Linked DNA regions of Homo sapiens. The protein of the gene in region 2 interacts with the protein of the main gene of each other region in a biochemical or structural test. Each region holds a gene or a part of one and is shown on either strand. Other genes may lie near its edges.

The links. The genes of interacting proteins can lie anywhere in the genome.
Region 1: the proteins of CNOT9 (region 2) and GIGYF2 form a complex in vitro, tested with the Homo sapiens proteins (one study listed by BioGRID).
Region 3: the proteins of CNOT9 (region 2) and TNRC6A form a complex in vitro, tested with the Homo sapiens proteins (one study listed by BioGRID).
Region 4: the proteins of CNOT9 (region 2) and CNOT4 form a complex in vitro, tested with the Homo sapiens proteins (one study listed by BioGRID).

The regions. Positions count from the first base shown.
Region 1 is NC_000002.12:232,787,831-232,791,330, forward strand, and holds part of GIGYF2 (GRB10-interacting GYF protein 2), read left to right. Parts: intron 1-2,867; coding exon 2,868-3,085; intron 3,086-3,177; coding exon 3,178-3,340; intron 3,341-3,427; coding exon 3,428-3,500. UniProt on the Homo sapiens protein: Key component of the 4EHP-GYF2 complex, a multiprotein complex that acts as a repressor of translation initiation. In the 4EHP-GYF2 complex, acts as a factor that bridges EIF4E2 to ZFP36/TTP, linking translation repression with mRNA decay.
Region 2 is NC_000002.12:218,592,839-218,595,209, forward strand, and holds part of CNOT9 (CCR4-NOT transcription complex subunit 9), read left to right. Parts: intron 1-689; coding exon of another isoform or gene 690-735; exon of another isoform or gene 736-1,009; intron 1,010-1,269; coding exon 1,270-1,438; 3' UTR 1,439-2,371. UniProt on the Homo sapiens protein: Component of the CCR4-NOT complex which is one of the major cellular mRNA deadenylases and is linked to various cellular processes including bulk mRNA degradation, miRNA-mediated repression, translational repression during translational initiation and general transcription regulation.
Region 3 is NC_000016.10:24,802,651-24,806,150, forward strand, and holds part of TNRC6A (trinucleotide repeat-containing gene 6A protein), read left to right. Parts: intron 1-1,526; coding exon 1,527-1,669; intron 1,670-2,054; coding exon 2,055-2,201; intron 2,202-2,363; coding exon 2,364-2,501; intron 2,502-2,954; coding exon 2,955-3,083; intron 3,084-3,500.
Region 4 is NC_000007.14:135,364,199-135,367,102, reverse strand, and holds part of CNOT4 (CCR4-NOT transcription complex subunit 4), read left to right. Parts: intron 1-2,904. UniProt on the Homo sapiens protein: Has E3 ubiquitin ligase activity, promoting ubiquitination and degradation of target proteins. Involved in activation of the JAK/STAT pathway. Catalyzes ubiquitination of methylated RBM15.

The DNA.
Region 1 (3,500 bases), about 14 Mb from region 2:
TTATGTCCTTCTAACTTTAGAAGAAGGAGAGACAATAGTAGTGATTAGTGGCTTTTAAAGTTCTTCTGTTTGTCTCTTAAAAATGCTCAAACTGTTCTTCTTGGACATTAGATATGCTAGTAATTGAAGACACTAGTGCTTTGTGTTAAAGTTCATCCTGTACCACAGTGCTGATTCCATGCCTCATGATAATCAGATGCAACTGTAGTTCCAATTGTGGGGTCATGCAAAACTGAAGCACACAGAGTATATGTGGAATGCCCTATGAATTTCATGTGTATGACAGTATTTTATCAACCATGTGCCAGAGGGGCTTACCTTTAATACAGGAAATTATGATAAGTAAACTGTTTTCACTTTTAAAAATCAAGTTATTAGCAAAACCACTAGCTTAGATCTGGGTAGACATTATAACAGGCATTCAGAGTATTTTAAGGAAGTGGTAGGTAGATAGAAACATACTGAAGTTAATGTTTGGGTAGAGTTAGGATGGTTTTATACCAACTCTTCATGGCTGCCTCTTGGGTGGGTTTTCTGTCATTAGTGGGCATTGTTTACATCACAAGGTCTAGACAATTTTCATTAGTCTGTGACCTGGGCCAGATGTTATAGTTCTCTAAAAGGCATCACTGCATTTTATGCTGAGCTTGTCCGTAGGCAGAGGGTTTGTAGACTATGTTCCCAACAAGCATTCAGTGAAGAATGGATAGGATCTGGGCTGAGAGAGAAAAGAAATTCCAGCTGGTCAAAAACAAACAAGGTGAATGTTTTGGAAGATGAACTGTGTTTTTTGAGCCCAAATGTCTGATGTTGATTCTATTAAAGGGAGTTTAACAAAGTACCTCCCACCCAACAACTTAGAATTTGGTTATATATTATCTTCTTCTCATCTTTTCTGAATCTTTCTTTCCCCCTAATATTTGACTTTCATATCATTTTTGTCATCAACTTGTGTATCTTCCAGAACTTTTAATCCATATACATATATATTTTTTCAGTCACACCTGTGGCTGAAATCCATATATTTTTAAAAGACAGTTTGGGGGATATAAAGATCCCCCAAATATAAAGTTTGGGTCTGAAAAAACAGTGTAAATGCATTTTAAAAAAGAATACGATTCACTTTTTAAACCCAGTATATTCAAAGTATAGCCTGATTATAGCAGTTTTCATATGTTAACTCTTAACGTTTGTTAGTTTATGGTTAATCTTTTATTAAGATTTGAGTAAAACTTTAAATTATTTTAACTGATTTTATGAAAATAGTATCCAACTTTAGTTTAGATGTAGGGTCTGTAAATCAGCAGTCAGCCTTAATAAGTACCTTGCATGTCTTACTTGCTATGTTTAGTTTCGTGAGTAAAATTTTATGAACTACTGATAAGATAACATTATGGGATATAAAATAGGGCTTCCGGCTGGATGTGCGTGGGGGTGGGAACATTAAGGACAGGGAGGCATCCAGTCTGGGAGCTGAACCTAGGAAAGTCAGTAAGAGGAGAAACATGAGCCAGGTACCTAGAAGGATAGATTCCTGTCATGATGTACATTTAGACTGTTAGAAATGAAAGCAGTACAGAGGGCTCTGGAATTCATTTGATCATGAAGACTCTTTTCACATAATGGCTCTAGGTTTCCACGTAAGCAGTCTGAGTATAAAATTCCTTAGTTCTCATAGGAAGTAGTAAATAGTGTTTTGTTGTTTTTATATGAAGGGATGGGAGTGTGGGACTAAGATTTCTTTTTTGTGAGTGGCTTATCAGATGCTACCTGTATTTGGCATTTTAACGTTTTGCCCTTTGTTTTCCAATTTGATTTTTAGATTGCTGGTTTTTGCAAAGTTTGTCTCAATAGTGAGAACATTTAACTCTGGCCACATTTCTTTTTCTTATCCCCCACAGAGAAAGCAGTCAAGGATGGAAAATTCTAATAGGTTAAAGCCTGCTTTTCTTTTTAAGACTCTTTTAGACTCAGGTCTGTCAGATTTTAGCAAGAGTTTCCCTTTCTTTTTTTTAGAAAAATATCTTAAGTAGGATCTCTTATTATTAGGCAATCTTTTCTTCTGTTGGGAAATGTAGATTTGGGAATGTCCGTAGGGGTATTATATGGATAGGGAGAATTAAGAGATGAGAAAGAAGGGAGAGGAGTAAGTATGTTATTGTGGAACAAGCAGCAGAGGGTGCAGAATTGGATTTTAGTTCTACTTTGCCATGTGCGAGTTACTTCTGCTGGCAAAGTTTTAGTTTCTTCTTAAACTATAAAATTAGGATAGTGAACTTCATAAAATCTCTGTGACAACTTTCAGCACTGTAATTTTGTGAATTTTTGGGGGAGGATCAGAATTACAAGTGGGAACCTGGCATTAATAAATAGTCATGATGAGTTTGATATAAGTCAACACAGGGAGCTGATTTTATCCACAAACAATGATATTTTCATGGGAAGAAAGAAAATGCTTTAAGATTGGGCAAAAGGAAGGTGTAAACTTCAGTATGGAAGGATGTCTAGTGCATTAAGTCTGGATGAGGAGTTGGCGGCTAATCAGTATTTTAATCAAGTACCTAGGACTTACTGAAAGTGCGTACTTGGAATACAGTGTCCTTTAAATGTACTGCATTTTAGATTTATCTTTTAAAGCTTTAGAGTATGTTGCCTGGCTCAGTACTTAAGTACTGTTGTCATCTCGTAATGGTACATATACTCTGAACTCTGAACTTCATTTAGTTGCCTAATGTTCTCTTTACTAGGTCAGTCCATTTGAGTTTGCGGTCACTTGTAGTTTTCTCCTTTATTTTCTATTCCTGATTTTCTTATTCAAATACTGTCATAAAACTTTTCTAAGGTTTGTGTCCTCCTTCTCATCTCAGATGGCCCTCGTTCTGCAGGCTGGCGGGAACACATGGAACGACGTCGGAGGTTTGAGTTTGATTTTCGAGATAGAGATGATGAACGGGGTTACCGAAGGGTTCGCTCTGGCAGTGGGAGCATAGATGATGACAGGGATAGCTTGCCCGAATGGTGCTTAGAGGATGCTGAAGAAGAAATGGGTACATTTGACTCATCTGGAGCATTCCTTTCTCTAAAAGTAAGAAACGTGTTTTAAATGTCATGACCAGCATTAACCTTATACCAAAGCCAAATCTGCTGTTGATCTTTGGTTTTATTCTCTTTCTACAGAAAGTACAGAAAGAGCCTATTCCAGAAGAGCAGGAGATGGACTTCCGGCCTGTGGACGAAGGGGAGGAGTGCTCTGACTCTGAGGGTAGCCATAATGAAGAGGCCAAAGAACCCGATAAGACAAATAAGAAAGAAGGAGAGAAAACAGATAGAGTAGGAGTTGGTAAGGCCTCTTCTTGCCCTTTGCCTTTTTTTTCCTCCATCAAACCAAAACTTTCGTAAGTTCAACTAAGATTACTTCGTGTTCCAGAAGCTAGTGAGGAAACTCCCCAGACCTCATCATCATCTGCTAGACCAGGTACTCCTTCAGACCATCAGTCTCA
Region 2 (2,371 bases):
GAACTTAGATTCTTTTAAAAATCTGAAATGCTGAATTTTAGTAGCCATCAGTTTCATCTTCTCACTGTAACTCTCCATCCTACTGTGAAATTCCAGAGAGTCTAGGCGATTCCAAAGGAAACCTTATGATGCATTACTCCTGTTGTTTGAATTTTCTGTTGCTACTCTACGTGGTCAGAGAGAGAAGTATATTTTCAAAGATCTCTTAAAAAGGAACACAGCCCAGAGGGCTCTTGAATTCTATTTCCAATTCTGTCCTTGATTCCTATAAGTTTCTTGAGCTAATTATTTTATCTGCTTATGTTCATAATCTTTCTGCCAGAAATCATACACTGTAGATATAATGCATTTTAGAAATGTTTGACCTTTTGCTTTGTAAATCCATAATTCATGCTGAAAGCAACCTGCTCATATTCTGCTAAACCACGTAATGGAGCAATTTCTGTGTTCCTGGGAAGAGAGCTAGCTTGATTTGATTTAATGTGAACTCAGTCTCCTGCCACTGAGTTTATTCAAGCCCTACCTGTTTGTTGACCATTTTATCCTGTTCTTCAGTGGTTCTTGTTTCACTAAAGTTTAAAAATGTGTTTATTTAAAATTCTACTTGTACAAAGAAAACTAGTCTGAGTGCAAAAACTATAACTTTGTTTAAAATAGCTCTACACATAGTTAACATTTACCTTTTTTAGGTTTTCAGATTTGACTTTCTGCTGGTCATCTTTTCAAAGAAAATGAAACGTTTAAAAGTTCATCTGATAATACTGCTACCATAGTTTTGTTTTCACTGCTCATCTCTTATTAAGGTTTTTAACCATAAAACTGAAGCAATTTCTGTAAAGACACAAATTGATAACTTAGTATAGAATTAAAATTCATTAAGTTATCATAAGTTTGATGATATCCTTGTTAATGTACTGATTTTTGAATTATTTTATTTGCCATAATCCATATATTTCTAACATGAGTATTTTGACAGTATTTAATAAATCAGAAAGCTGTTTGAATGGAAGTAAACTATTGAACCTTTTAATTTTGCTTTTTCATGAAATTCTACATTGGGGCATCATTCAGAAAATATTTGTGGATACAGATTTTGGAGATCTCTAAGCCTATGCCTAATATAGCTTTAGAGAATTTTAATGGCTTCTTAAGGAGCCATAGATTCACAGTATTCTAAATATTTATGTCTAAGAAGGGGGCTCTTCCCTGTCCACAAAATGTGGGTTTATTTGTTGGTCTCCCTGGTTGGTTTGTTTGTTTCTGATGTAGGGCACGTGAAGCACTCAGACAGTGCCTCCCTGACCAGCTGAAAGACACAACCTTCGCCCAGGTGCTAAAAGATGACACCACCACGAAACGCTGGCTTGCACAACTGGTGAAGAACCTGCAAGAGGGCCAGGTCACCGATCCCCGGGGTATCCCCCTGCCCCCTCAGTGATCCTTCCCTGTTCCCTCCCACTACTCCCCCAAGTTGGGGAAAGGAGGGGGAACCTACGAGAAAAACAGCTCAGGTTTTATCACCGACTGGGAATAGACAACCTCAATGCTGAACCGCACTGGAGAAAAGGGGCAAGGTACCCCTGCTGAGGTGTATGGGCTGCCATCTCAGGCTGTCTTGAGGACCTGGGCTCCCTCTGCTACTCCCAGGAAATGGGCTCCTGACACAGCAGTCTGCCACCACAGCCCCAGGAGGGTGTCAACACCAGCAAATGCTGTATTTGCAGCATGTCCAAGATGACCCTTCTCCCCTACCTCTACCTAGCCACTGGCAGGGAGGGGAGACAGTGGTGATAGCAGCAGCACTCTAGGCATGGTGAACGCCTGGGACCAAGCCATGTGGCGTTTTTTATTTTGCCTTTCTGGAAGACTCAAGATATGTCTCTTCATTCTCTCTCAGTATTTGTTTACTTTGGTTTTTTTGTTTTTAATCTCAGAGAGAGGTGTGTTTAGTGGGCACAAGCTGTAATATTCAGCAAAACTTTGTCGACTGGCACTGTTTACAAGTCTGTTAGCTGCATAAGCTCAATAAAAAGTTGGTCTGGGCATTACATCCCCTCTGGCAGGCCAATAGCTGCATCAAGCTGTTGGGAGAAATGGGAGGGCAGGGGAAAGATGTAAAGCCAAAGTACAGCAGGAACCCACCACCTGTTTCCCTTCCTTCTCCCATTCTACTCCCAGTCCGGAATGCCACGAGGACCTTAACCTTGTTTCTGGCTTTAGCTGCTAGTTTTCCCAAATCTCAGTGCTTTCCCTTTTTGAACTTCCCTTCTATTAAACTTAAAACAGATGTCTTAATTAATCAGGCTGTCTTGGAAGGGTATTGTATTGGGAGACAAGGGGCGGTGGTGGACCTCACCTTCAATCCAAGTTT
Region 3 (3,500 bases), on a different chromosome or scaffold from region 2:
TGGGCATCACTTGAATGGGAGTGACTGCTGATACCCTGATAGTGAATGAAGTCTAAGGAAAGCAAGTTTACAGAGAGAGTCAAAAGACTGAGACCCTGAGTCTACTTTGTCAGCCGCAGAGTATCCCAGCATTGAAGAAGCACCCGAGGTGAGCTCAGCATGGGTAGAGGAAGAGAAACCAGAATGGACAGATGGTGAGGAGGGGTGGTAGAGAGCATTGTCCACTTTTAAAAGATTTGTTGAAATAGAGCAGTAGCTTTTGGGCCGGAGCTGGCTATATCCAGCAAAGATTTTGCAGGAAAAAAGTTTCCAGGAGAGAAGATCATTTTTTATTGCAGAGCAGTCAGAATGAGGAGAGGAGCAGACAGAGCAAAGCCTAAGAGAGGGGAAGATGTTACCCTGTCTGGTGTCCAGTTTCCTCATCTGCTAAAAGGGCGATAACAGTAGAGTTACAAACATTAAATTAGTACACATAAAGCATTCATAGGCCAGGTGCGGTGGCTCACGTCTGTAAATCCAGCACTTTGGGAGGCCAAGGCAGGCAGATCACCTGAGGTCAGGAGTTTGAGACCAGCCTGGCCAACATGGGGAAACCCTGTCTCTACTGAAAATAAAAAAATTAGCTGGGTGTGGTGGTGGGTGCCTGTAATCCCAGCTGCTCAGGAGGCTGAGGCAGGAGGATTGCTTGAACCCGGGAGGCAGAGGTTCCAGTGAGCCAAGATCACACCACTGCACTCTAGCCTGGGCTACAGAGTGAGACCCCTTCTCAAAAAAAAAAAGAAAAGAAAAAGCACTTATAATGGCGACTGACATAAACCAGGCATTTATTAAATGGTGGTTTATCACAGTGGGTGTTGATTGTTTTTATTACTTGTTAATGGAAACTTACCTGTATTATAAAACTCAGCAGATTAGAGATGGCTAAAGGTGCCTTAAGTTATGTAACCTAAGAGTCCTTTTAAAACGAGGCCGGGCCTGGTGGCTCATACCTGTAATCCTAGCACATTGGGAGGCCGAAGCGGCCGGATCACTTGAGGTCAGGAGTTCAAGACCAGCCGGGCCAACATGGAGAAACCTACATCTCTACTAATAATACAAAAAATAGTCAGGTGTAGTGGTACACTCCTGTAATCCCAGCTACTCGAGAGGCTGAGGCATGAGAATTGCTTGAATCTAGGAGGTGGAGGTTGCAGTGAGCCGAGATCCCACCACTGCACTCCAGCCTGGGCCACAAAGCGAGACTGTCTAAAATAAAAAAGAAAAAAAAAGTGAGGTTATCAGCCAGCCACCTTCTGTTTACTAGTCTATTTCAAGTTAATTATTTCAGTAAAATAACAGTATCTCCTAATTGCGACTTCATTTGTGAGGAATGCAAAATTTATGAAATGGAAGTGTATTTTTCACATACCCTTGTCTTGGCTGAAGTCATTTCAGTTTGGAAAGTGAGTGTTTTGCTTTTGTTGTAAATTTATCTGAAACCAATTGGGTTGTCTTCCTGTTTGATAACAGTCTCCTGCCTTTATTAGGAATGTTACAAGACAAACGAATGGAGATAGATAAACATAGCCTAAATATTGGTGATTACAATCGAACGGTCGGGAAAGGCCCTGGTTCTCGGCCTCAGATTTCCAAAGAGTCTTCCATGGAGCGCAATCCTTATTTTGATAAGGTAAGGTTTTTTACTTTTACCTCTGACTTGATAAACCAGTATACTTCATAGCGTAATTTTCACACTAATATTTTAAAACCTTTTATATAATATAAAGTGTTACAATCCACTACCAAATCTTATTACTGGATTTTGAAGTTCACTGTCTTTTTATGTCTCAATTTATCATAGAGGTTGCATTTATATTTTTCTTCTTAATCCCATGAAATATGTTTGGCTCTTTTTGTGTGCTCTAGAATTAACACTAATCCGATCTCTTCTGTTTTCTACCTGTTTCCTGTTGATGCTGGAATGTCATGTGACTTCTCTTCTGTTCCTGCAATGATTTCTCCCTTCCACTTGTTTGCTTGGCTGGTGTTGCACATCTTTCTGTCTGTCCAATCAGGATGGCATTGTAGCAGATGAATCCCAAAACATGCAGTTTATGTCCAGTCAAAGCATGAAGCTTCCCCCTTCAAATAGTGCACTACCTAACCAGGCCCTTGGCTCCATAGCAGGGCTGGGTATGCAAAACTTGAATTCTGTTAGACAGGTAAGTCCAGATGTGTATTTTAGGCTCTCAGTTGAATGATTTGTATTAGTAATAAGATCTCTCTTACATGTAGTTACTGTGTTTAAATCATAGTACAGTGTGGTAATGAGATGTTTGTCCCTAAAGAATCCCACTGTTACTTGTTGCTGTTTGTTTTTATAGAATGGCAATCCCAGTATGTTTGGTGTTGGAAACACAGCAGCACAACCCCGGGGCATGCAGCAGCCTCCAGCACAACCTCTTAGTTCATCTCAGCCTAATCTCCGTGCTCAAGTGCCTCCTCCATTACTCTCCCCTCAGGTAAATAAGCTTTCCTTACATTCTCCTGTTTACCTGCAAAAAGGATCTTGCATGATTTTGTATTTGAATAAAATGGCTAACTAAGCATTATCATATTTATTGGCATCTTTGAGATTCAGCTAGTTTTGAATTAACTATTAAAAAAGGTTGTAGTAAGGAAAAGTCAAGGATAATTTAAATCCAAAATTTACCATTTTCTTCTTTAAAACATTCTTGAGAGTAGGACAAAAGCAAAGTAAAATTGACTAGTTTAAGATGCACCTCTGTCATCTTTTACTTAACCCACGAAAAAGTGTAAGTGAGTGGTCAGTTAGTAAGACAGAGACAAAGACTATAACCCCCAATGAATAGTCCACAAATTTAACTGCTCTATTGACAACTGAAAACACACAGTACGTGTAGTTAGTGTGAGTTATTTTATCAAGATCATTAACTTACCATTGTGATCCTAAGGTTCCAGTTTCATTGCTGAAGTATGCACCAAACAACGGTGGCCTGAATCCACTCTTTGGCCCTCAACAGGTAGCCATGCTGAACCAGCTATCCCAGCTAAACCAGCTTTCTCAGATCTCCCAGTTACAGGTAAGCAGAGTCATAGTCTTTCTTAGTACACATTTATGGAGCATCTACTGTATGCCAAACACTAGACTCTGTGCGGGACATAGTGCACTAAACAAAACAGGCGTAGTCATAGTCCTCATGGAGCTTACAGTCTATCGGGGGAGACAGATCGTGAACATTTGTGAAGAATGTCTTGAAGAAGTGCAGAATGCTGTGAGAGGAAACCTCAGCCAAGTCCAGGGTGCTAGTGTTAGTAGGATGATTAGGAAAAGTTTCTCTGTTGAAGTGAAAGTTTAGATTGAACTAAAGACTGAATTTCAGCAGTGACTAGAAACCAGAGAGTCCAAGGAAGAGATGGTACTAGATAATGCTAGACATGTTGGCATTGGCTAGATCACGTCGTGCCTCTGTAGGTCCATCTGCTGTCGTCATTTGGAA
Region 4 (2,904 bases), on a different chromosome or scaffold from region 2:
TAGCATCTAGTGGGTAGAGGCCGGCAATGCTGCTAAACCTCCCACAGTGCTTAGGACAGCACTCCACAACAGAGAATTATGTAGTTCAAACTGTCAGTGGTGATGAGGTTGATAAACCCTGCTGTATGTGTTTCAAAGAATGGAATTGCCAGAAGCCCTCGCAGCCAAGACAAATTTGGGTCATTGGGAGGGAATAGGGAATCAAGGAGGTGACTTCAGGTATGGCCGGACTGAGATGAGCTATTTTGATGGGATTAGGATTAAGCTGATTTCCTTTCTCTCACCTTTTCTTTGTGCCAGCACTTGGCATAGCAATAGTGGAAAAAACAGTGAAATAAACTTCTTTTCTTCTAAGCTAGATGGAATATGATCCTATTCCAAGAGCTAAAAGCATCATTCTACTTCCCTGTAACACTTGCAGCTTTACTGTAAGCCACATCCATGCTGTCAGGCTCCCAAAATGTCAAGGCACATGATTTTTTGGGGGGAGGAGGGGTGTCAAGATTGTTGCATTATAAACTAGCTAATTTATTTCCCAAGGTATCCTGTAATCATAGTGCACCTGGGAGGATCTAAATTTCTCACTGTTTCTGCATCATGCGCCATATGTGAATTTCTTTGGCTAACATACCCTTGCTTGATTTGATTAGTCTACAATTACAGGAACAAATGTCCCTTAAAACAAACTTTTTTTTAGAGTAGTTTTAGGTTCACAGCAAAACTGAGTGGGAAGTACGGAGAATTGTCATATAACCCCTCTGCCTTTATTGTCTTTTGACTTTATTACTAATTTTCAAATAAGATTTATGTAAATGCAAGTGTTATTCTGTTAATGCAAAATTAAATGTTCCTCAATTTCATTGCTCACTAAATGGTAAAGCAAAAGTTAGGAGCAGATTGTTCTGAGTTATGGGATATTCTCTCTCTCCCTATTCAGTAGAAGAGGGAGGATCATTTGCATGGACTTCTTAGGGACATTAGCCACTCGGTGTAAGATCATTTATCTTCCTGAAAATGTTCCCATGTAGTTATACATCATCTTTTTATTTCTGGGGGATTTTATTTTTCTTATAGGAAGTTTTCCCTGTTTGGCTTTTGCCTAATTGGAAGCTATTTTAAGTTATTCAGCATGACAGTTGGACTGCTTTAAAAGTTAGAGTGTACCATAGCCGTAAACCTTACTGTGATTGAGAGTGTTCTAGGACTTATATTTATGATCTTGTTTGTGTCTCATGTAGTTAGGGAGCCAGGGGGAAACTAGTGATTGTATTCTTGAGCAGAATTTTTTTCTCCTGGCCGCAAAGTCCAGTTTCTTCCTTTAGTCACAATATCTCTCTGCTAATCATGGCCAGTGGACACACTATAATGCTTCTCTGTTTCTCTTTTGCCTCCTTTCAATCATGGGTCTTCCCCTGGGCTTTCCCTTTAATATTTGACCCTTTAAAAAATTAATAGTCTGTACAGAGTAGATCGAGAGAGTAAGCTTGCTTGCTTTTTTTTGGACAGGGTTCAGGTTCAAGTTCTCAATAACAAGTTTTGTGAACTTGGGGAAATTATTCCTGAGTCTGTTTCTTTATCTAGTAAATGCAGATTATCCTTGTCTGCCTGCCTCTCAGGGCTGTTGTGAAGATCACATGAAATAATTGACTATGAGAGTGCCTTGTAAACCATACAACACATACAAATGTAAAATAATATGCAAATATAAGAAATGTGAGGTTTAGTAAATTACATCAATTATGAAATGAAAGTAGGGTTGGAGAATTTATTTTCCCTTCTGTTGTCTTGTTTTGTGTAGCCTAGAGTGCTTTTTCTTCATCTTAATAAGTTCAGAGATGACCTTCGTTCAGTTTAGTTGTAGTATTTTATCTTTTTATAAATAAGGTCAATGGAGTTAAATGCTTCACTTGTTGAAACATGATATAATTTGGCATTGATCAGTGGTTGGTGCAAAGCAAAATTTCAAAAAGAAAATTCTGATTTTGCTAAGCAGCATAGATCGTGCCTGTTAGAACATCCTCCTCCTCCTTCTCAGCGTTGATTGCCAATCAGTTCTGTAGAATCAGAAATATTTTTCTATGCTTTTTTCAAAAACTCCAGTTTGTAATTTGACTTACATTGCTATTTTCAAAAATAAAACAACTATCTAAGTATTTGTTAAACAATTAGGTAGTTGTTATACTTCACCCTTTTCCCCCTGACCAGTTAGTTATACTATGTGGATTCTGGATGGTAGTAGATCAAGTTAGTTTAGTCACAATTTATAAAAAGCCTTTTCTATGTTGCTAGTGTCTTCTCATGTTTGATACTATTCATAAATAGACCCAGAAAACTGTAGGACTCCGGGACTCAGGCTGTGAATGATTGGTAGAACTGTTGGAGTAGAGCAGGCAGACTGTGTTGGAAATTATTCCATCTAGAAGGTATCAGCTCCTGCCTCCTCGGCCTTAGTGACTAAATGGAAATACATTCTTTTCAAATTCAAAAGCCTGTTCATTACTGCTTTTCTCTTCTGAAGCACATTGCCAGTTTTATAATGAAGAAGGACTTAATTATTTTTCTTTTTCTATTGCTTATGTTTATTCTTCATAAAATGACTTTTCTTCCATTTGTGGGCTGAGAAATAAGCTCCTATATTGGACTTTGCAGACTTGGCTTTTTTATAGCGTAAATCAGCTCAGCTGGCTAAATGCCTCACTAAGTGAAACTTCATAATGTAGCTGGAACTAAATTGTGCTCTGGAGCATTGAGTCTTTAAACTGGATTATTGATTTACAAACCCATAATGGTGAAGAGGCTATAGAGAGACAAGAACCTCCCTCTCCTGATCCTTGAGCAAGTTTTTCCTCACTTCAGGGGCTCTGAGCTCACGAGCAAAATCCTAACCAAGTTTATCTTGCTAGG